Regions from separate parts of the Homo sapiens genome. Here region 2 is linked to region 1. Evidence: fine-mapped expression QTL. Tissue or cell type: whole blood. Region 1 holds a variant in brackets; the other region holds the start of a gene. All regions are shown on one strand. Distances are between the middles of the regions.

The links.
Region 2: SLC7A6 starts here. The variant in region 1 is fine-mapped to the expression of SLC7A6 in whole blood (TOPMed, PIP above 0.99).

The regions. Positions count from the first base shown.
Region 1 is chr16:68,293,352-68,304,425 of GRCh38, forward strand. It overlaps SLC7A6 (solute carrier family 7 member 6), which reads left to right. Exons shown (of 11, transcript NM_003983.6): 8 at 1,354-1,450; 9 at 3,013-3,162; 10 at 3,276-3,459; 11 at 3,883-8,468. The coding sequence ends at 3,977. It overlaps SLC7A6OS (solute carrier family 7 member 6 opposite strand), which reads right to left. Exons shown (of 5, transcript NM_032178.3): 3 at 10,675-10,881; 4 at 9,030-9,150; 5 at 4,683-8,054. The coding sequence ends at 7,924. Among named protein-coding and RNA genes, the nearest start is that of SLC7A6OS, 12 kb to the right of the region's middle. RefSeq lists a silencer at 4,635-4,929. The variant G/A (reference allele first, on the strand shown) is at 5,493.
Region 2 is chr16:68,259,512-68,270,585 of GRCh38, forward strand. It overlaps SLC7A6 (solute carrier family 7 member 6), which reads left to right and starts at 5,015. Exons shown (of 11, transcript NM_003983.6): 1 at 5,015-5,065; 2 at 7,082-7,210. It overlaps PLA2G15 (phospholipase A2 group XV), which reads left to right. Exons shown (of 6, transcript NM_012320.4): 6 at 1-1,547. The coding sequence ends at 146. It overlaps LOC124903704 (a long non-coding RNA gene), which reads right to left and starts at 4,946. Exons shown (of 3, transcript XR_007065096.1): 1 at 4,857-4,946; 2 at 3,676-3,903; 3 at 3,150-3,185. RefSeq lists a silencer at 4,901-5,180 and an enhancer at 5,553-6,752.

The DNA.
Region 1 (11,074 bases):
AGGCGGAGGTTGCAGTGAGCCGAGATCGCGCCATTGAACTCCAGCCTGGGCTACAGAGCGAGACTCCATCTCAAAAATAAAAAAAGTAGTGTCACCTTCCCTCTGCTCAGCCTAGTTGTGATAGATGGACTTCTTTTCTAGCCTTTCCCTGACACCCTAGCCTCCCCCTGCTCTAGTTTGCTCTCCAGTCTGGTGTCAAATCCCGTCAGGCCCTTACCTCAAAGCCACAGCTGACTGTGTTTGTTCAGACTCCACAGTGTGGCCTTGTATGCAGGTTCTTCCCAGCACCCTCTTCTCACACAGCTTGTCCTGGGGCTCTAGGCATTCTACATCAACCTCCAAAGAGGCCACGCTCTTTCATACCTCCACACATTTTGCCTATGCACATGCTCGTTTTTTCCACCTACCGACTTGCTTCTGGAAACTCTTCTTTGCATCTCTCCTCTTGCAAAGCATTTTGGCACAAGCCTCAAGCCTAGCGAGTGAGTGTCGTGTACTCCAAGGTGATGCTGACCATGCTGGGGACAGTTCATTTCTGTGCCAGTCTTTTTTTGTTTGTTTTTGAGATGGAGTTTTACTCTTGTTGCCCAGGCTGGAGTGCAATGGTGCGATCTCGGCTCACTGCAACCTCCGCCTCCTGGATTCAAGTGATTCTCCTGCCTCAGCCTCCCGAGTAGCTGGGATTACAGGCATGTGCTACCGCGCCCGGCTTATTTTGTATTAGTAGAGACAGGGTTTATCCATGTTGGTCAGGCTGGTCTCAAACTCCCGACCTCAGGTGATCCACCTGCCTCGGCTTCCGAAAGTGCTGGGATTATAGGCATGAGCCACCATGCCTGGACGCTGTGCCAGTCTTTTTCCCAGTCGGTAGAGCTCTTTAGGTGTAGAAAGGAAGCCTGGGTTGTCTCTCTGACCCTCAGTCTTGCCTTACATCAGCTCAGGGAAAATATATGGAGGGCATGAACAGAAATCTGGCTGCCCTTTAAAAGCTATTATGTTAGCTATGAATCTGGCATGGATTGGGTGAGTCTGTTAGTGGGTGACAGCAGGGTGAGGCATCTGTTGGATGTTGGTGAGGTATCTGTGGCTGAGAGAAGAGGGGGTATCTGGGTGATGGTGGGTGGGGCATCTGGGTAGTGGTGAGGTGCCCGGGGATGAAGAGGGAGGGAAAATCTGTAGGGAAGGGGGGAGCAGGGAGGTTGGACTGGTGATGCACTAAGGACCTGGGATGCTCCTGGGAGGCTGCATCCTGCTTTCCTCGGGGGCTCTGAGCTGAGTTTGTCCAAGTGAGGAGTGAGTATGGCTGAGTAAAAGGAGTAAAGGATCCTGCTGACACATTTCTCATCCTTCTAGGTTGTTCTTCGTGGGCTCCCGGGAGGGCCACCTACCGGACCTTCTGTCCATGATCCACATTGAGCGTTTTACACCTATCCCTGCTTTACTGTTCAATGTAAGCTTTGCTGGGACCACGGGGCTCAGGTGGATCTGTGCATTGCTCCTTCTGATTTGTGCTAAGTTGTTAAATAAGAGGGACCCTGAGAAAGGCCTTACTCTAAGATGTGAAAAACAGTTCATTTTTTGTTGTCATTTAATTCTTTTATGGTTTTATTACGTTTAATTTTGGATTAATCTGGAATTTATATTATAGCATAGTATTGAGAAAGGTGGGGATTCACTTAATTTTTTCTCGAATGGCAGCCAGCTATACCAATATCGCTCACTCAACAATCCATTTTCCCACAGTTTTCAAACTTTTATCACAGAAAATTAATAGCTAATTTTTTTAGGGTCCTTAATATGTGCCAATTATTATTGTATGCCCCTTAAATGTGCCATCTCAACTAATCCTCCCCATCAGCACCAAGTCTCCTTAGTTTAGCTTTATACTGACTATCTGAAAACTAAAGAGGGACCAAGGGTACTTCTTTAGTCCCCCCGCCCTTGGAATTTTCCTAGCAATTCTCATATTCGTTTATTTGTCTTGATGAACTTTTCTATCATTTCATCAAAGTAAGAGAAAAATTCTCTTGATATTTTGACAGGGCCAGCATTGAATTTATAAATTTAGGAGGTTATCTGACTATAGGCACACACCACCAGGCCTGGCTAATTTATTTTTTGTAGAGATGAGGTCTCACTATGTTGCCCAGGCTGGTCTTGAGCTCCTGGGCTCCAGTGAGCTGCCACTTCAGTCTCCCAAAGTGCTGGGATTATAGGCACAAGCCACCACGCCCAGCCTTCTCTTCTTAATACAGGGTTCTCCCTTATCTCCACAGAATGAGCTATTTGGTTTTAAATCCTTTGTTGATAATTTGTAATGAAAAGATTATTGAAGTTTAAACACATTTGACCTTGTCCCAGGACCCTAGGCCCTAATCCTTGCCTTCTAGGATTCTTTTGTTCCAGAAGCTAATGCTGTCTTATGTCTGGATGGATCCATTTTGCTAGTTTCCAGGTCCAACACCTGACTTCAGAGGCCTGAAATGCTACAATTTCTCCCTCTGGCTCAAAATTCTTCCATGGGGAGAGAGTTAGATTCCATTATTTATTGACATTATTTAGTCCAGATGGGTAGGGATCCAATTGCTAGTTAGCATTTCTCAGGCCTGAGGACAGTGAGATGGTTCTGAAGGCGTTTCCCCCATTTGTATGCCAGGCAGTCGGGACCCAGGTCTAACCCCTCTCTAGGACACCGTGTAATCCATGTTAAGGTTGCTGCACTGAAGTGAGGAGGGCCTCAGCGTCTGCCTTTTTCTAAAGTGCTTGCAACAAGGGGGAGGCATTGAGTGGAGGAAGGGCTGCAACAGAAGGGGGAAAGATGCTACCCTGAGGGTTAATGTACCTCAGGGTACATCAAGGAATGGACCTATCTGATGCCAAGGGGTCAATGAAAAGAGCCAGAGGTAATCTGGTGAAGTGGCATCAGATCTAGTACTGACTGCTGGGTGGGGGAGTCTCCTGGGGGCGCAGGTGGTGACGATGCTCACCTGTCTCCCCACCCCTTTCCCACAGTGCACCATGGCACTCATCTACCTCATCGTGGAGGATGTTTTCCAGCTTATCAACTACTTCAGCTTCAGCTACTGGTTCTTCGTGGGCCTGTCTGTTGTTGGACAGCTCTACCTCCGCTGGAAGGAGCCCAAGCGGCCCCGGCCTCTCAAGGTCAGCAGCTCTGGCCAGACTAGGAGGGGTGGGCCATCTCCCTAAGGTGGCTTCTTGCCCACGAGCTGTTTCCTCTTCCCACGTTACTTAATCTCTCACCCCCTCTATTTCAGCTGAGCGTGTTTTTCCCCATCGTGTTCTGCATATGCTCCGTGTTTCTGGTGATAGTGCCCCTCTTCACTGACACCATTAATTCCCTCATTGGCATCGGGATTGCCCTTTCTGGAGTCCCTTTCTACTTCATGGGTGTTTACCTGCCAGAGTCCCGGAGGCCATTGTTTATTCGGAATGTCCTGGGTGAGCTTCTCTGTGCCCCATTACTCACTGGCGGCTATGTGTGCATGCGCATGCAGAGGTGGGGGGTGGCTAACAGCTTCCCCATACTCAGAATTTGCTGGAGGCCATGTGACCCAGCTGTCCACGACTTCCCTTTTGATTTTGACATGATCACTTTAGTTCTAATTTTAGTGTCCTATTTTGGGGCTAAAACATTACCTCCTGACAACACAAATCACCTGGGAAGATGAGTTGTGCATCAGACTCTGGTTGGGCATGGGACAGAGGATGATGAGGCTTGTTGGGAGACAGGGGCAAAGCCTGATATAGGGTACTTAAGGGGCAGGTGGCGAGGGAGCCATAGATGTTACTAGTCAGCCTTGTTCAGGTTAGGGCTGTAGCTAGATGTTTACTAAACCCTGTGCTTGCTCTATTTTCATTTAGCTGCTATCACCAGAGGCACCCAGCAGCTTTGCTTTTGTGTCCTGACTGAGCTTGATGTAGCCGAAGAAAAAAAGGATGAGAGGAAAACTGACTAGAGGTCAGAGGTGGCTTTCTGAGGCCTGGAAGGCAGGCCAACCAGCAAAATCCTGATAACAAGACTCTGTGGGCCCAACTCTCCTGAATTAAAGGAGCCTTTTGACCCAATCATATAGTGGGGCTCAGGGCCAGTGCTCACTCTTATTGGTAAGCTATAGGAGACTCAGGATCTGGGCCAACCTCAAGGTGGGGGCTTCAGAGGGTGGGGGGAAGATTGGGGAACGGGGGGAATGGTCATTTAGTTTTACTCCTGATAGGTAGATGCAGCTCTTACAGATATTTACTTGGTAAAGTGCAGTGGGGAAGAGGGAATGCTAGGTTGATAGGGCTGGTGGCTTCTGAATTTGGTATTTGAACTAGGAGTCCCTATAGAGGGGCTGCTTTATGGGAAGTTTTTCTCTGACCAGGTACAACACCTGACTTTAAAGGCCTGAAATGCTACCATTTCTTCCTCTGGCTCAAAATTCTTCCCTGGGGAGAGAGTTATATTCCCTTATTTATTGATATTTAGTCCAGAACACCAGTTCTAACGAAGCATGCGTGTCTCTTCATCTACAGGATGCAATAGGCTGATTGTATTTAAAAATCAAAGTACCCAAAACTGAGTCCCTTTGGGCTCAGAAATGTCTGTGGTATTGGGTCAGACTCTGACCACAGGTTTTATGCTGTTTAGCACAATTTCTATTGAGTCTTACCTGCAACAATGAACCTTAAAGATTTTTTTACTCACGTACCTGTTACACTTTAGCATACAGATAGATCATAGATCACGTTACAAGCACTTGGCTCAGGTCCAGCAAGGACAGATGAACAAATTCCTGAGTCAGAAGTCTGTTAATATTGCTGTTTTGAAGGACAATCCTTTATTTTACTTGAGACCTTACATCTTTGTTCTAGCTGACAGTAAATCTCTGGGTTTCTGTTACGAACTCTAAGAGGGCTGAAACTTCTGATATTCAGGTGGATCACCTGAATTCTCTCAGCTGTCAATGGCTTGGAGAACATCTCATGGGCCCAAGTCATCAAATAACCTGTTCCTCTCTGTAAGGGCAGTGTGAGGGACTGCTGTGCAGACCCAAGCAATCCCAACCTGGTGCTAGGTCATTTCACTTTTCTGAAAACCTCACATCAGGCTGCATCCTCTTCTGTCCCTGGCACCAGGCTTTGTTTACACTTGGAGCCACCTTGGTGTGGGTCACCGGGACAGTGTACTCCTCTCCTGCCAGCCTCCCCTTCCCCGAGGTGTGGTGGCTGCAGTCTCAGGAAGAGCTTGGTACTTGTGGGGACTTCTGTTTTCTCCCTGTGGAGATCAGTGAAGACTGGGAGGAAAGCTGCTTCAACCTGAGTCCGGCTCTTCAGCAGGCTGCACAAGTGGAAGCAACTAATTCTGGTGCTCAGGCTGGGCTCTCCACCCAAGTTAGGCCTGCTCTGGCCTAATGGATCTTACTGTATGAGCAGGACGGCTGCATTGGATTGTACAACTGTTTTGTGATGCCCCCAGACACTGTCATCCT[G/A]GGCCGAGAAGAACCTGCTAGCTTGACATACCCCATGGGCTTATCCTTAGGTTTTGGAATTGGTCAACAGTGAGGCAGTCTCCCTTCCTGACCATTCTTCTCCACCCAGTCACAGATAAGGGAATAACCTTGGCCATATATTTGCTCAATAAAGATTGAAGGAAGCATGGTCATAGTTGCCCTGGGTTCAGAGCATAATGCATATGTGAAGCATGGGGTGACATTCCTACTGTCATGGGTTTGGGATTTGTAACGGCAAATTCCTGCCCGACGACAGGGTGTCTTATGCAAAGGCTGACTTGCCTGAACGCTAAGAACATGACTTCTGTCTGAGCTAAGCTGGCACCCATCCCAGGGCTCCTCTGGAGCTAATCCTTTAAGCAAAATGTGCTTGCCTTTTAAAGATCCCTGACCCCAGCTTTAGCTTTCTCCACCAGATAACCAGCTAATCCCAGGAATTTGCTGCCCCCCACCAGTGGCTTCTAGGGAAAGCAAGGACCTCACATGCCAGGTGCCCTAGTACTTGCTTAGTGAGCCATGTCATCCTCCTTTCATTTTTGGATGGTGACAGCATTTTTCCCCTCTGTGCTGGATACAGACTTCTCCCAGGATCCTCTCTTTGGGAGCGAAGCCAGAGGATCCCTACAGCACTCAAGCTTCATGGTGGAATTAATTTCTGCCAGCTCTTTGTTGTCTGTCTCCTTAAATCCTTTTCCTGGTGTGCTTATTATCCCTTTTGCAGTGAGTACAGTTTATTAAGTTGTCAGCCCTTTAATATTGGGGAAACTTAATGAGTATAAATAGCAGGGAGCACATTGTAACAGCACAGTGTTTTGTTTTTTTCACCCGGTTGCTGTATGAGAATGGCTTTCAATCCTTTGTTTCTATGCCTACAGACAGAAAGCAAGATGTCTAATATTAGACATACAAGTTGCTGCCTGTTATAACGGTGAATTATACCTTTGTGCATGCCTAGGATGTTTGTTGTTTTAATTAGCTGCAATATATACGGCCTGTGTACACAGAATTTAATCACTTCGGCAGGTTGAACAACTCCATGTAGATAAGAGCAAGTGTAGGCAAAGGTTTAGAAAATGGACATAAAGTCAAAGAATGATGGCAGGTAGGATGAAGGAGAGATACTTAGGAAATCCTAAAAGAGGCGGCAAGAAGGTACCTCCCTGTGTAACTCACCTTCCCCCATGACAGTGAGTAAGAGACACTCACAGGCTATGAGGGTACACCCCTAGCTGAATGTTCTGTGTTGTTTCCTTAGACCTGTGGTGTCCGCTGCAACAGCTACTAGCCACGTGTAGCTAATTACATTAAAATGAAATAAAATTAAAAGCTCAGTTTCTCAGTTGCGCTAATCACATTTCAAGTGCTCAGCAGCCACCCGTGTCTACTACTACACAGTGCAGACACAGAACATATCATCACTGCAGATAGTTCTACTGGACAATGTTACGCTAGAATAAACACCAAGGCAGTCAGTTAAGGCAGCTATGGTTTGGAAAGGCATACGGACAGAGTCTGCTTAGAAGAGATACAAGTTGTTAATAAAATTGATCCTGTTGATAGTAGTTTGTTTTTGTGGTGGGTGCTGTGAAGAGTAAACATTACTCAGTGGAAAGCTAAGTTCAGAAGGTACTTTGTTTTTCCTCCCTTGCCTTAAGTCCTTGGTATTTATAATCAATGCTGAACCTTCTATTTCACTACCGCTCCCTGTTTTAGATATTCAGATTTAAAAGGTTTTCAAAGAATTACTTTCTTCCATGTTCAAAGCTAGATTTTACTAAACACATGTATCACATTCATATATATTGTTTCTTGGCCCCACTGCCAAAGGAAGTCAGTCAGTAATTTCACAACCGTTATCAGAGTTTGGAAGCAGAAATAGCTGTTAACTAAAATCTCCCACTGCTCAGACTACTTTCTGCCCTAATGGCCATTACTATCCAGTCTGTATTGCTACAAGGGACCCACTGGTACCCCTTTTAGATTCTATCAAAAGGAACAGGGTTTTCCTAGAGGCAGGCAGCCTGGTGGTATGGCACAGCAGAAGCTTACTGCTAATGAAATGGGAACCTCCCCCTCCCTTGTGGTTTCAGCACAGAACCTGAATGCCAGGAAAAATTCCTGGGCCAAGAAGCTAAAGCTAAAGAAACCTTCCTTTTTTCAACGTTTTTTTTTCTTTCAAACTGTAGGGTCACTTTTGATTGAGGCAAAGGGGTCCTACTGTAAGTGGAAAAGACTCACTCCCCTAACATAAGTTTTCACTGTGGTGGGATGGTGCCGCCCGATATGCTTGATATGCTTTTCCTTCCACATGTTAAGCTAGGAAACCTAACAGGATGTCAGCAGGGCAGTTAACTCTGGACTCAGAGCCCTCAAGGGCATGTGGCAGAACCTCATGGACATCACAAGACCATCAGTCTGAATCCAGGTCGTGGGGGCTGTCATAGCCGAACTCCTTCTGCACATCCAGAGGGTACTTGCTCCACATCCGCTGTCTGCTGCTGCCTCTTTCCTCCTCACTCAGGCTGTTGTAGTCAGCAGAGCCTAGAATGACATCCCGGGAGTGGATTCTAAATGTGATTTTCCTAGGCTACTGCAGGAGCCCCTTCTCTTCTCAGAAAGGTCTGTTTTTGTTCCCGATTGTAATGCAAAATCCTTGCTCAATAAATAAAAAAGAATATAGAATTCTTTTTTTTTTAAAGAAGGAATCACTTTCCTATCATCTAAACCAAGTTCCTTCACACTGGAGTATTTTGTCACTTCTCCCCTCCGTGGAGTATTTTGTCACTTCTCCCCTCCGTATAGGATTTTTTGTTGTTGTAAGAGTTGTAGTCATATTGTAAATATTTTTGTACCTTTCTCCTTTTAACGTGTTATTGACAAACCTCCCCAAAAGAATATGCAATTGTTTGATTCATTTCTCTGTTATCAGACACCAATAAATTCTTTTTGTTGGGCCTTCTTCTCTCTTCTTTAATATAGTTACTACGGGAATTATGTTGTCAGAGCATCTTTCTTCTTCCCCCAGGTATTATGTCTGTGTTGCATCTTTCTCAAAACAGTTGTACATGCAGCAGTTTTTTGAGAAGTTAGATAACTGATTTGTGAAAACTCTGGGCTTATTCCTACTGGCAAACCTCTCTCTTCATTGGTTTCTTGACTGGGGCAGGGGAAGAGACAATGAGCTACATATTTTACATAATCTCAACCACTAAAATTCATGCAGAACCATCTCATTTGGAGAGAAAATGAGGCTCAGTGAGGTGAAGTAACTGCCCAAGAGCCACAGCAAAGTAATGACAACTACAGATTTGAATCCAGGCCTGATGGATTATTACACCCCCAGGAGGCCCCTGGGAAACACTGGTCTTTGGGTCTCCTACAGCATGGCTCAGTTGCGGCTGGGCTGCTGGCGCTCAATGACAGAGAAGGAAAGGCAATTAAGATGCACCTGTCAACTATGCCTGCACCTCAGTCTCAGATCCTACCAGTCCCTCCCGGTCTGGGGCTGCCACCCACCTCTGGAATCCTCATCTCCATCACTGCTCTCCTCCTCTGGGTACTCATTGCGCCAGTTATTCTCACTGTTCTCGTCATCTTCATCGTCGTAAATGTCCTCTGGTTCTTGATCATCATTCACCTACACATCTCAACACAAACATGAGTCCAAGTCAAAACCTCTAAGGTTATGCTCTGGGGGAAGTTGTTAGCATACCAGCTTGAAGAGATATCATGTAAAAGTGCCCTGTGAAAAAACTGCAGACTAGTAGTTTGACTCCATTGCACAAGAGGCTATGAGAGGGAGATAATAGCCCCCTTCCACTCAGAGCCCAGCTCCACAATGATAGGACATGCTGGACCCCATGAGAAGGGAACACAGGGAAAAGAGGAGTGATGGCTCTGAGCGATTCCTTCAAATTCCAAAGGTCAAAACCAAAACCCAAGCGTAAGAGGTGCGGAAAGGCAGGAGGAAGGGCCATGCAGTGGTCCAAGGTGGGTACCTGACTGCAAATCTGTCCTAATGCAGGTGCAGGATGCAGTGCTTCTTGATTATAGTCTGAGCATGACCATTAGGTGCCACCTTAAGTTTTCTTGTTAAGCATTTTAGAATTTGAGAATAGGCTGGGCGCGGTGGCTCACGCCTGTAATCCCAGCACTTTGGGAGGCCGAGGTGGGTGGATCACTTGAGGTCAGAAGTTTGAGACCAGCCTGGGCAACATGGTAAAACCTTGTCTCTACTAAAAATACAAAAATTAGCCAGGCATGGTGGCATGCACCTGTAGTCCCAGCTACTTGGGAGGCTGAGGCAGGAGAATCGCTTGAACCCAGGAGGCGGAGGTTGCAATGAGCCAAGATTGCACCATTGCACTCCAGCCTGGGTGACAGAGCGAGACTCCATCTCAAAAAAAAAAAAAAAAAAGATAATGGTGTCAGCTAGGTGTGGTGGCTCACACCTGTAATCCCAACACTTTGGGAGGCCAAGGTGGATCACTTGAGCCCAGGAGTTCAAGACCATAAGACCAGCCTGGACAACATAGTGAGACCCTGCCTCTACAAAAAAATCAACAAAAATTGGGCATCATGGTGCATGCCTGTACTCCTGGCTGGCTGCTTGGGAGGCTGAGATAGGAGGATTGCTTGAGCCTGGGAGATAGAGGCTGCAGTGAGCTCAGATAGCACCACTGCACTCCAGCCTGGGTGACAGTGTGAGACCTTGTCTCAAAAAAGAAAAAAAAAAAAGAATAATGTCAGGACGTTAGCTTTCTTCATCCGAGGTTTCTCTACTTCTAAGGTACGAATTAAAAAATAGATTTTGTTGTCACTCATGTTAAGAATTTCTGATTTTATCGTCTTTATCTTATCATAAGCCCCATATACATATTTCCCCCCTAAGAATGGATAGCTATAAACAATAAAGGTGATGTTGCAAACCTTGTAAAATATTCATTAATGTAAAAATGATCAATCTAAGATGATCTTTCCCCAAATTCCCTGTACTATAAAGTCAGGTTCCTAAAAGGCACTTAGAATAATTTCTTCCTTTTCAGGAGGAAAAGAACTAAGGACAATGTTGTTCGGGAGTGGAGCCCAGGGAAGCAAAGCATTCTGATTAGATTAAGAGCTTAGGATGCCTCATGCCCCGTCTGCTCATGGGCCCCCTTACCAGCTCCCATTCTTGGCTGTAGGGCTGCACGGAGAGGATGTTCTCAATCCAGCCTGGAGTGGCCGTCTCCAAGTAGTAAATGTCATACACATAGTCATCGTGTTTTTGTTCTTCCTGGCGCCTGACTCCTGGTCCATCCTCAGACACAGTCAATCGCTCACGGATCAACTCTACAGAATTGCAGAGGATCACATCTGGGTCAGATGTCTGTAAAGAAACCACAGATTACACACACACGCATGACCCAAAACATGATGTTCCAAGAGGAGGAACCTATGAGTTGGGTGAAGGAAGGCTCCCTACAGTTTTTTTTGAGACGGAGTCTCACTCTGTCGCCCAGGCTGGAGTGCAGTGGCGTGGTCTTGGCTCACTGCAACCTCCGCCTCCCAGGTTCAAGCGT
Region 2 (11,074 bases), 34 kb before region 1:
TGAAGAGTGCCCTGCAGTGCCAGGCCTGGCAGAGCCGCCAGGAGCACCAAGTGTTGCTGCAGGAGCTGCCAGGCAGCGAGCACATCGAGATGCTGGCCAACGCCACCACCCTGGCCTATCTGAAACGTGTGCTCCTTGGGCCCTGACTCCTGTGCCACAGGACTCCTGTGGCTCGGCCGTGGACCTGCTGTTGGCCTCTGGGGCTGTCATGGCCCACGCGTTTTGCAAAGTTTGTGACTCACCATTCAAGGCCCCGAGTCTTGGACTGTGAAGCATCTGCCATGGGGAAGTGCTGTTTGTTATCCTTTCTCTGTGGCAGTGAAGAAGGAAGAAATGAGAGTCTAGACTCAAGGGACACTGGATGGCAAGAATGCTGCTGATGGTGGAACTGCTGTGACCTTAGGACTGGCTCCACAGGGTGGACTGGCTGGGCCCTGGTCCCAGTCCCTGCCTGGGGCCATGTGTCCCCCCTATTCCTGTGGGCTTTTCATACTTGCCTACTGGGCCCTGGCCCCGCAGCCTTCCTATGAGGGATGTTACTGGGCTGTGGTCCTGTACCCAGAGGTCCCAGGGATCGGCTCCTGGCCCCTCGGGTGACCCTTCCCACACACCAGCCACAGATAGGCCTGCCACTGGTCATGGGTAGCTAGAGCTGCTGGCTTCCCTGTGGCTTAGCTGGTGGCCAGCCTGACTGGCTTCCTGGGCGAGCCTAGTAGCTCCTGCAGGCAGGGGCAGTTTGTTGCGTTCTTCGTGGTTCCCAGGCCCTGGGACATCTCACTCCACTCCTACCTCCCTTACCACCAGGAGCATTCAAGCTCTGGATTGGGCAGCAGATGTGCCCCCAGTCCCGCAGGCTGTGTTCCAGGGGCCCTGATTTCCTCGGATGTGCTATTGGCCCCAGGACTGAAGCTGCCTCCCTTCACCCTGGGACTGTGGTTCCAAGGATGAGAGCAGGGGTTGGAGCCATGGCCTTCTGGGAACCTATGGAGAAAGGGAATCCAAGGAAGCAGCCAAGGCTGCTCGCAGCTTCCCTGAGCTGCACCTCTTGCTAACCCCACCATCACACTGCCACCCTGCCCTAGGGTCTCACTAGTACCAAGTGGGTCAGCACAGGGCTGAGGATGGGGCTCCTATCCACCCTGGCCAGCACCCAGCTTAGTGCTGGGACTAGCCCAGAAACTTGAATGGGACCCTGAGAGAGCCAGGGGTCCCCTGAGGCCCCCCTAGGGGCTTTCTGTCTGCCCCAGGGTGCTCCATGGATCTCCCTGTGGCAGCAGGCATGGAGAGTCAGGGCTGCCTTCATGGCAGTAGGCTCTAAGTGGGTGACTGGCCACAGGCCGAGAAAAGGGTACAGCCTCTAGGTGGGGTTCCCAAAGACGCCTTCACGCTGGACTGAGCTGCTCTCCCACAGGGTTTCTGTGCAGCTGGATTTTCTCTGTTGCATACATGCCTGGCATCTGTCTCCCCTTGTTCCTGAGTGGCCCCACATGGGGCTCTGAGCAGGCTGTATCTGGATTCTGGCAATAAAAGTACTCTGGATGCTGTAAGGTGCCCTGGCCTACATTCTGCTCTGAGCATGAGGGGAGGGAGGTGGTGGAGGTACAAGGTGGCTACAGAGGCAGGAAATTAGGGGCTGGGCCTTTACAGGAGCCTTGACAGGTTGTCTCAGCATCAAAGCATGGTTCCTGTGCCCTTCTGTGGACCTCATCCTCCTGTCCTCTCTCCTGGAATCCAGTTCCCTTCCTGGGACTAAGAACCAGAACCTGAAACATTCCTGTGGAAATGGGGTCCTGTCCTCCCCCTGCTCCTGCCTGGTCAGCAGGCCCCACATGCCACCCAGGAGCTGGGAGCAAGGACAGTCCTGCAGGTCACCCTGGCTACACCCTCCTTCCCAGCCTCTGTCCTCCCTCAGCTTGCAAGTGTCAGCATCCTTTGAACCTAGAGTTCTTTTTAGGATGCCACCCTTCTTTGCATCTTCAGCTCATCAGCCTGCCATCTGTACCCCTGGGGAGGTACAGATGAGAGAGATCAAGGGAGGAAAAGAGACTACTAGGCTGAGACTGGTATGGACAAAGACAGAAACAGAGACAGAGCCAAGGAAACATGGATAGGGGATAGGGTCCCAGCCTGAATTTTGTAGTCCAGAGCCCAGCCGGTACCCAGTTCTGTCTTAACTCAGCCCCACAAGCTGGGGCGCCAGACTTTGATACACCAGGGGCCACAAGAGGGCGCCCTGAACCCTCTCACTGAACCACCTGTTAGCCAAACCTGGAAGGACGAGGTGACCCAGAGTGGGGGTAAAAATGCCTGTGGTAAAAATACTGGGGTCCAGCTGCAGCTCTGGCCTCAGTAAAAGGATGACAACATGAAAGGGAGCTTCACCCCAGGCCCTGCCCAACCTGACTCCCTGCTTGGCCCTGACACCCCCCTACTCATGGCACCCCACTCATCCCTGACCCATTTTAGCTTCACCATCACCCTCAGTTTCATAGCTGCAGAGAGAAAGGGCATGGAATCAGAGGAGGCTTAAGGATCAGCATACTAGGGTTCAAATCTCAGCTCTACTAGCTCCAGCCAAGTTGTCTGGGGAGCCTCCTGACCCTCAGTTTCCTCATCCAAAGAATGGGGACATCTGGGTGCATTGGCTCACGCTTATAGTTCCACCTACTCAGGAGGCTAAGGTGGGAGGATCGCTTGAGCCCAGGAGTTTGAGACCAGCCTGGGCAAGACTTTATCTCTAAAGGTGAAATAGGCCGGGCGCCATGGTTCACGCCTGTGAGCCCAGCACTTTGGGAGGCCAAGGAGGGTGGATCACATGAGGTCAGGAGTTCAAGACCAGCCTGGCCAACATGGTGAAACCCCATATCTACTAAAAATACAAAATTAGTCAGGTGTGGTGGCACATGCCTTGTGGTCCTAGCTACTCTGGAGGCCGAGACAGGAGAATCACTGGAACCTGGGAGGCGGAGGCTGCAGTGAGCCAAGATGGCACCACTGCACTCCAGCCTGAGCAAGACAGAGCGAGATACATCTCAAAAAAAAAAAAAAAGATGAAATAAATCTGTAGTCCCAAGTAGGAAGCTGAGGCAGGAAGATCGCTTGAAACCAGGAGTTCGAGGCTGCAGTGAGCTATGATCACACCTGTGAATAGCCATTGCACTCCAGCCTGGGCAACAGCAAGATCTCTAAAAGCAAAAGAAAAGAATGGTTACAAATAAATGTATCCTGCAGGGTGGTCCTGAGGAACACTGATGGTGTTGGAGAACATCTGATTCAGGGTGTGGTGTACATTGGGCTTTCAGCTGATGGGCTACGTAACTGGGTATGAGACTGCAAAGCCAGACGGAGCTGGCATATGGTGTTTTTTTTTTTTTTTTTTTGAGATAGACTTTCGCTCTTATTGCCCAGGCTGGAGTGCAATGGCGCGATCTCGGCTTACTGCAACCTCTGCCTCCTGGGTTAAAGCGATTCTCCTGCCTCAGCCTCCTGAGTAGCTGCGATTACAGGCATGTGCCACCACACTCGGCTAATTTTGTATTTTTAGTAGAGACGGGGTTTCTCCATGTTGGTCAGGCTGGTCTCGAACTCCTGACCTCAAGGTGATCTGCCTGCCTCAGCCTCCCAAAGTTGTAGGATTACAGGCGTGAGCCACCAGGCCCGGCTGAGCCGGCATACCTTATATGAAGCTGTGGCAGGGACACGTGGGCTGGGTGCTGACACAAGTGTCCAGAGCTGTCCTTCTGCTCAGCCAGGGAGGCCGGAGGAACTGATCTGGGAGGCAAAGGGTGCAACTCGATTGATCCAAATATATACGTCCACTCACTGACACTTAGGGGAGGGGTTCCAAGCAGAGGGCAGGAGGGCAGCACCAGCGAGGATTCCTCAAGTATTGTCATCCCAGGCCTGCAGAGAGGAGAATGGAAGGGTTTTAGGCAGGGGAGATACAAAGTCATCGCAATCTGTATTCTAGGAGCATCCCCTACTCTGTGGAGATGGGGTAAGGGGAGCAGGATAGGGATTGAGAAGCCGTTGTGGCTGGGGAGAAGAAAACGAGGTATAGGCCGTGGGAGGAGTGGGGAGGAAGGGTCTGAGGTGCTACCCATCTCTGGCTGGGTCCCTGTCACTGGGTGGCAGGGAGCAGGGTCTTGGGTATGGTCTGGAACCAGAGGACGTGTACTTGTGGTCATAAGGCTGGGGGAAAAGATTCCAGGGCCCTGGAGAAAGTCAGTGCTTGAGGTGTGGACAGGAAATTTCGGAGGAGGGCTCAGGCGCCCATGAGGTCAGGAGGCTCTAGACAGAGAGCCCCAGAGCCACCAGAGGAAAAGGAACTCGAGAGAAAGATGGAGGAGCAAACAGAGGGAGGGGAAGGGGGCAGGAGGTGCAGCTCCCCCAAGAGGGGGGGCAGGAGGTGCAGCTCCCCCAAGAGGGGTGGCAGCCCTCTTGGGAAGATGAGGACAGAGCCCCAGGGAGGCCTGGGGTTGGCAAAGGGAGCCTGCAGTTTCTTTGTGGGTGCGGGGGCCTCAAGGGCTACGAGTCTGAGCTGTGCGTGTGTTTGGACAAGTCCCCAGAGTGTGTGTCTTCCTGGGGTTCCTAGACTGCGAGTGGCAGTGGCCCGGCGGCGGAGGCCGTTTGGATCCCTGTGTGAGCTGTAGGGGGCGCCCTGGGCGTCGGGCCCAGGTCAAGTGCGAGATAGGAACGGGGTGCGGGGGCCGATGAGAGCTCCCCGCGGGAATGTCCGCTGTGGACGCCCTCGGAGGCCCCATCTAACTCCAGGGCGGCGAGCGTGGCCGGGCCCAGTTCACGGGCTGCTCGAGCCCTGACGAGGCAGCTGGGGGCTGTCTGGCGTCCACGCTCACGTTCTGGGCCGGCGGACCCCGTACCGGCCAGGCCGTGGCGGCCACGGGGGCCCGGAAGCGCCGCCGCCAGCTGGCCCCGCACGGAACTGTGTCCCGACGCGGCGCGCGCTGTCGCGATCCGGCGGCGGGTGACGTGGCGGGGCGGGGCCTGAGCTGCCGCGGCGGCGGCGGCGCGACCGAGCATCCTGGCGGCGCCGGGCCACTGGGAGGTAACGGGCTGGGCCATGGGCGGGCGCGCCGGGAGCGGGGCCGGGGCTGGGCCGCGTTCTGTGGGAGCCGAACCCTGTGGGTCTTCGCTGCCGCCGTCGGGAGCGGGATGCGGCCCAGAAACAGCGCGGGGCTGGCCGATCGGGGCCGCGCGAGAGGCGCTGCGGGTGAGGGGGGGCGCCACGAGGAGAGAGGGACCTCGAGCGTGAGGGCCGAGTGTGGGAGAAACGCTGTATGGGTGCGAGCCCCGGAGGCTGATGGTGACCGCGAGGGAGCCAGTCTTGGGGTGTGCTGGCGACGCGGCGAGTGTGAGGGAGACCGGGGGTGTGTGTGGAGAGGGAAACCCCAGGTGCGAGGGTGACCGGGACGCTGAGTGCGCGGGCCGCGCCGCGAGCGTGAGACTGTGCGACGGTGACCCTGAGTGGGGCTGTGACTGCGCCTCCGACTGCAGGACGGAGAACCTGTGCTGTGTGGCGGCCGCGGTGGGGCAAAGAAAGACGCGGGCTCAGGACCTCAGGAGCCAGGCTTCCTGGGGCTGTCGCAAGAATGACGATTATCATTTTAAAATCAGTCCTTTTACTTTAGAGAATGCCGCAAGGTTTTGTGGCGTGCTGGAGCCTGGAGCGTTGGGCTGCTGGCGCTGGGGAACCCGCGTGCCCCTGGTGATTATGGCTCTTTTGAGCGTCCCTATAGCCTGTCATCTTGTGTGACTATCTCTCCTGAATGTGGGGAGATAGACGTGAAACATTCTGAAAATTCTTTGCTGGGCTCTAAGCAAACATGTTGTGTAATGGTCAGTATAAATAGGAATCAGGGTGTCGGCGAACACGTTTTTGAGTACCTCTTGTATGCCCTGGGCTTGGTGACACAGTTAAAAAGAATTCAGTCTCTGCCCTTGATAGGGGAAAAAGCCAGGGCAGCTCATCTCGCAGGGCGGCTGTTCAGTGCCCAGCCATCCGGGGCTTGTCTCTCAGAACTGCTCCCAGATTTCAGATCTGGGAGGAGCAGACTTGAAAGGCTGTGAGTACTTCCTTATATCAGTTCCACCTCTTTTTGGTGGCGGTGAGGCCTTTTGGGGACCTGCCCAGGCTGCCTGCATTACTCAGGTCCCATGTGTGCTGCGCAGACGGCTTTTGCTTCCCAACTTTGATCTCAGATCGTTATTCAAGTCGTTACACTGGAGTTTATTTTCCTGGCAAGTGTGTGGAAAACCACCAGCCTGATTTTCTCCTCTCTTCCTCTCCTTGTCCTCCTTCCCTATTTGGCCGTGGATGTATTTTTATTGCATATACCGGTTTTATGATCCCCATCTCCCTGGAACTTCTTAGTAGAAGAAATTTCCTGACCTTTGTGCTTCCTGCTGTAATTTCTTGGATGTATATTAGTTTCTAAAAAAGTTATGCAGGCCGGGCGCGGTGGCTCAGTCCTGTAATCCCAGCACTTTGGGAGGCCGAGGCAGGCGGATCACGGGGTCAGGAGATCGAGACCATCCTGGCTAACATGGTGAAATCCCGTCTCTACTAAAAATACAAAAATTGAGCCAGGTGTGGTGGTGGGCACCTGTAGTCCCACCTACTCGGGAGGCTGAGGCAGGAGAATGGCTTGAACCCGGGAGGCGGAGGTTGCAGTGAGCCAAGATTGCGCCATTGCACTCTAGCCTGGGCAACAGAGCGAGACTCCATCTCCAAAAAAAAAGAAAAAAAGTTATGTAAACGGTGCCCACGGGACCTGGGGCCCCAGAGCTGCCTAGACTTACATGATTTAATGTGACAAGGCCAGTTCTCTGACAGGTTTGGGCTGGCTACTTCAGTTATACCCACCCTGTGGGTGTCATGGAACCTGCTAGTAATTAGGACTGCCCCTGCCGGGCATGTAAAATTTAGATTTTACAAGGAAATATCATTCTGCTGCTTTCTTGGTTAATTAAAAATAATTACATATATATATATATTTAAATCAGCTTTCTCAGGTTAAAAGAGTTCATTTTTTGATCAGTTCCCTCCCACTCTTTGTTGCAGAGTTTATGTGGCCGAGGCAGACAAGTGGAATTAGGCCTTGCTGCAGGGGACTTCATTTCCTTCTCAGTACTGGACCCATTTATGAGGAGGTGGCTTATGAAAGTGTGATGTTCGCGTATTTCTTGACAGGTGAATATTGTTGCGCTGTCTTTTCTTTTGTTTGTGTGATTTACAAAGAGTTTTTACTTGTATACAGTGTGAATACAATACTAGTAAACAGAATGGCTTACACATAATTAACAACTCTTTAGTATTACATATTAAATAACACTGTAATTTATTATAAAAATAAATTATACATTTATTTATATTACAATTCTTTATAAAGAGTAATTGTGGTGGGTTTTTTCTTTTTTTTTGGAGACAGTGTCTCACTCTGTCACCCAGGCTGGGGTGTGGTGGCGCAATCTCTGCTCACTGCAACCTCTGCCTCCTGGATTCAAGCGATTCTCCTGCCTCAGCCTCCCAAGTAGCTGGGATTACAGGCGCCCGCCACCATGCCCAGCTAATTATTGTATTTTTAGTAGAGACGGGGCTTTACCATGTTGGCCAGGCTGGTCACGAACTCCTGAGCTCAGGCAATCTGCCCGTCTCAGCCTCCCAATTGTGGTGGATTTTTTTTTTTTTTTTTTTTTTTTTGAGAAGGAGTTTCGCTCTCATTGCCCTGGCGGAGTGCAATGGTGCGATCTTGGCTCACTGTAACCTCCACCTCCCGGGTTCAAGTGATTCTCATGCCTCAACCTCCCGAGTAACTGGGATTACAGGTGCCCACCACCATGCCCGGACAATTTTTTGTATTTTTAGCAGAGATAGGGTTTCACTATGTTGGCCAGGCTGGTCCCGAACTCCTGACCTCAGGCGATCCACCCGCCTCAGCCTCCCAAAATGCTGGGATTACAGGTGTGAGACACCGCGCCTGGCCATAACTCAGAGAGTTTTATAAGAAAAAGTCCTCTGTGTTTTCACCATAGTTAAGATTTTGATTCAACCAGAGGGGGGAATAAAAAGATTTTGATGTATTTCTCTGTGATATAGCAAAATATTTTTTGGTCTTCAGCCCGTTTCCTAGCATACAACTCCTAAAATACTTAGAAAGATCAAAGTAATGTCTTTTTGTATGCTGATGGCTGGTGGCTGGCAGCCCCTAGAAAGCTTCAGGATGGGGGCTGGTCACTGGAAAGACCAAGTCAGGATTAGAGGGTTGGGACTTTGAGCCCTACCCCCAACCTCCGGGGAGGGGAGAAAGGAGGAGGGTGAGGTTAAGTTGATCACTAATGGCCAGTGGCTTAATCACTCATGCCTATGTAATGAAGCCTCTATAAAAACCCAAGAGGCTGGGGGTTTGGGGAGCTTCCGGATAGCTGGACATGTGGAGGTTCCTGGATGGTACTTCTCCCTGGGAGGACAAGGAAAGTCTGTGACCCTTCCCCCATATGTGGCTCTGCAAACCTCTTCATCTGTATCCTTTGTAATAGCCTTTATAATATACAAGTAAAGGTAAGTAAGTGTTTCTCTGAGTTCTGTGAGCCGCTCTAGCAAATTAATTGAACTGAAAGAGGAGTCTTGGGAGCCCCAACTTGAAACAGTTCGGTCAGAAGTTCAGGAGGCTTGGATTTGTGCCAGGTATCCTGTTGGGGAGGGGCAGTCTTGTGGAACTGAGCCCTTCTGCTGTGGGATCTGATGCTGTCTCCAGGTAGATAGTGTTGGGATTGAACTGGAGGACACTCAGCTGGTGTCCCTGGGGAGAAATGATTGCTTGTTAGTGGGGAACCCTCCCCCTCCGGCATTTGGTCACAGAACTCTTCTGTGTTGATTATTGTGGTGTGAGAGTACACAGTAAAAATGGTTTTGAGTTTTTCCAAACATTCTCAATAGCATTTTTTCCTTTAGTCATTACAAAAATTTTGGTTTCAAATCCACTTTGTAAAACTTCCTTTGTAATCGAGCTTTTCCCCCCTTTCATCCCGTTTTCTGATGTAATTGAATTGTGATAAATTCATTTATTCCAAAAATTGCTTGTGGCAGTTTCGTGGTTAAATTTTCATGGGGAAATTTTGGTAGTCTGTTAAATTCCTTTATTACCTGCTGCAGGAGACTGCAGGAATTTAAAATTTTTAAAAATTTTTTTGTTGGCTGGGTGTGGTGGCTCACGCCTGTAATCCCAGCACTTTGGGAAGCCGAGGCAGGCGGATCACCTGAGGTCCCAGGAGTCCGAGACCAGCCTGACCAATATGGTGAAACCCCGTCTCTACTAAATACAAAAAATTAGCTGGGTGTGGTGGCGCATGCCTGTAATCCCAGCTACTCGGAAAGCTGAGGCAGGAGAATAGCTTGAACCCAGGAGGCGGAGGTTGCAGTGAGCCAAGATCGCGTCATTGCACTCCAGCGTGGGCAACGAGCGAAACTCCGTCTAAAAAAAAAAAGAGCAAAAATACGTATTAAAAAATATTTACCTAGGCTATTTGATATTGCCCCACAGGTTGATGTTCTGTTCTATTTTTTCACTTTCTCCATTTTGACCCTTTTGGTTTTCATCTCACTGCTAAAGTTCCACATTTGTTTCTGCATGCTGTTCAACTTTTTCAGTAGAACCTTAAATGTATCAAACACAATTATTTTAAATTCCTTGTTTGATGTTTCCATTATCTGGGTCATCTCTCAATATGGTCCTATTGATTACTTTTCCTCTTGATAGTGGGTTGTTTTTCTTGCTTTTTTTATGTTGCTTGTAACTTGTTACTGATTGCCAGATACCGTGTGTGGAACAGTAGAGACTGAGGTATATAGTATTTATTTTGGGAACTGGGTACAGCTCTTCTTTGCTAGACTGTTTGTATGGGAGTTTGAACTCCTAGTCAGGAGACAGTAGTGTTTGGGTGTTATTGTTGCTATGGTTACGTTAGGTGCACCAATGACTTCAAATTCTTCTCATGTTTCCTTGCCAGCTTACGGTTGGTTTGCAGGAGGGAGGCTTTTTCTCAGTGGTTATCCTCCATCCATACCCTCAGTTTATTAGCCAGGCATGGTAGTGCACACCTGTAGTCCCAGCTACTTGGGAGGCTGAGGCAGGAGAATCCCTCGAACCCAGGAGGTGGAGGTTACAGTGAGCCAAGATTGTACCACTGCACTGCAGCCTGCGTGACAAAGCAAGACTCTGTCTCAAAAAAAAAAAAAAGAAAGAAAAAAGGTCTCACTCGGTCATCTCACTCTGTCACCAAGGCTGGAGTGCCCGTAGTGCCATCATGGTTCACTGCAGCCTCCCAACTCCTGAACTCAAACTTACCTCTTAGCTTTCTGAGTAAATAGCTGGGGCTATAGGCGTGTGCCATCATGCCTGGCTACTTTTTAATTTTTTTTTGTAGAGATGGGGTCTTGCTATGTTGCCCAGGCTAGTCTCGAACTCTTGGCCTCAAGTTCCTCCAGCCTTAGCCTCCAGAGTAGCTGAGATTACAGGTGTAAGCCACTGCGTCCAGCCACCCTCAGCTTTAGGATTTCTCTGTGCACCTATGCCTCAGTGCACAGTCTCAGTGGTAGACTACTGTTGCTTGTTCCTGGGTGCTTGCTAACCTGGTGGTAGGGAGTAGGGATTTCTCTGTTGTCTGGTTCAGCCTCAGTCTTAAGCAGGCCCTGTTTGTTTCCCTGGGTCTTGGGAGTGGATCTTTCTGGGTGCTCCTGCCCTTTTCCCAGGAGAAAGACACCTCCGGTGGTCTTGCCCAGAATTTCCTACCCCTCCTCCAGGCATAGAGGTTTTTTTTTTCTTTTATCCTGCCCCAGCTGCCTCAGGAGTGACAGAGTTTGCTGCCCTTTCCCAGGGGTTTATGGTTTTTATTCTTTAGAGGAGAAGGGTATAGGTTGGCCTTTGTATTTTCCCTCCCATAAGCCAGCACTACCAAGAGCGGTTTTCTCAGGTTACTTGCCCAGTATTTCTTCTGAGTAACCACTGAGGTCTATGGAAAAAACCTGAGTGTCTGTGGCTCTTACTAACCCACACTT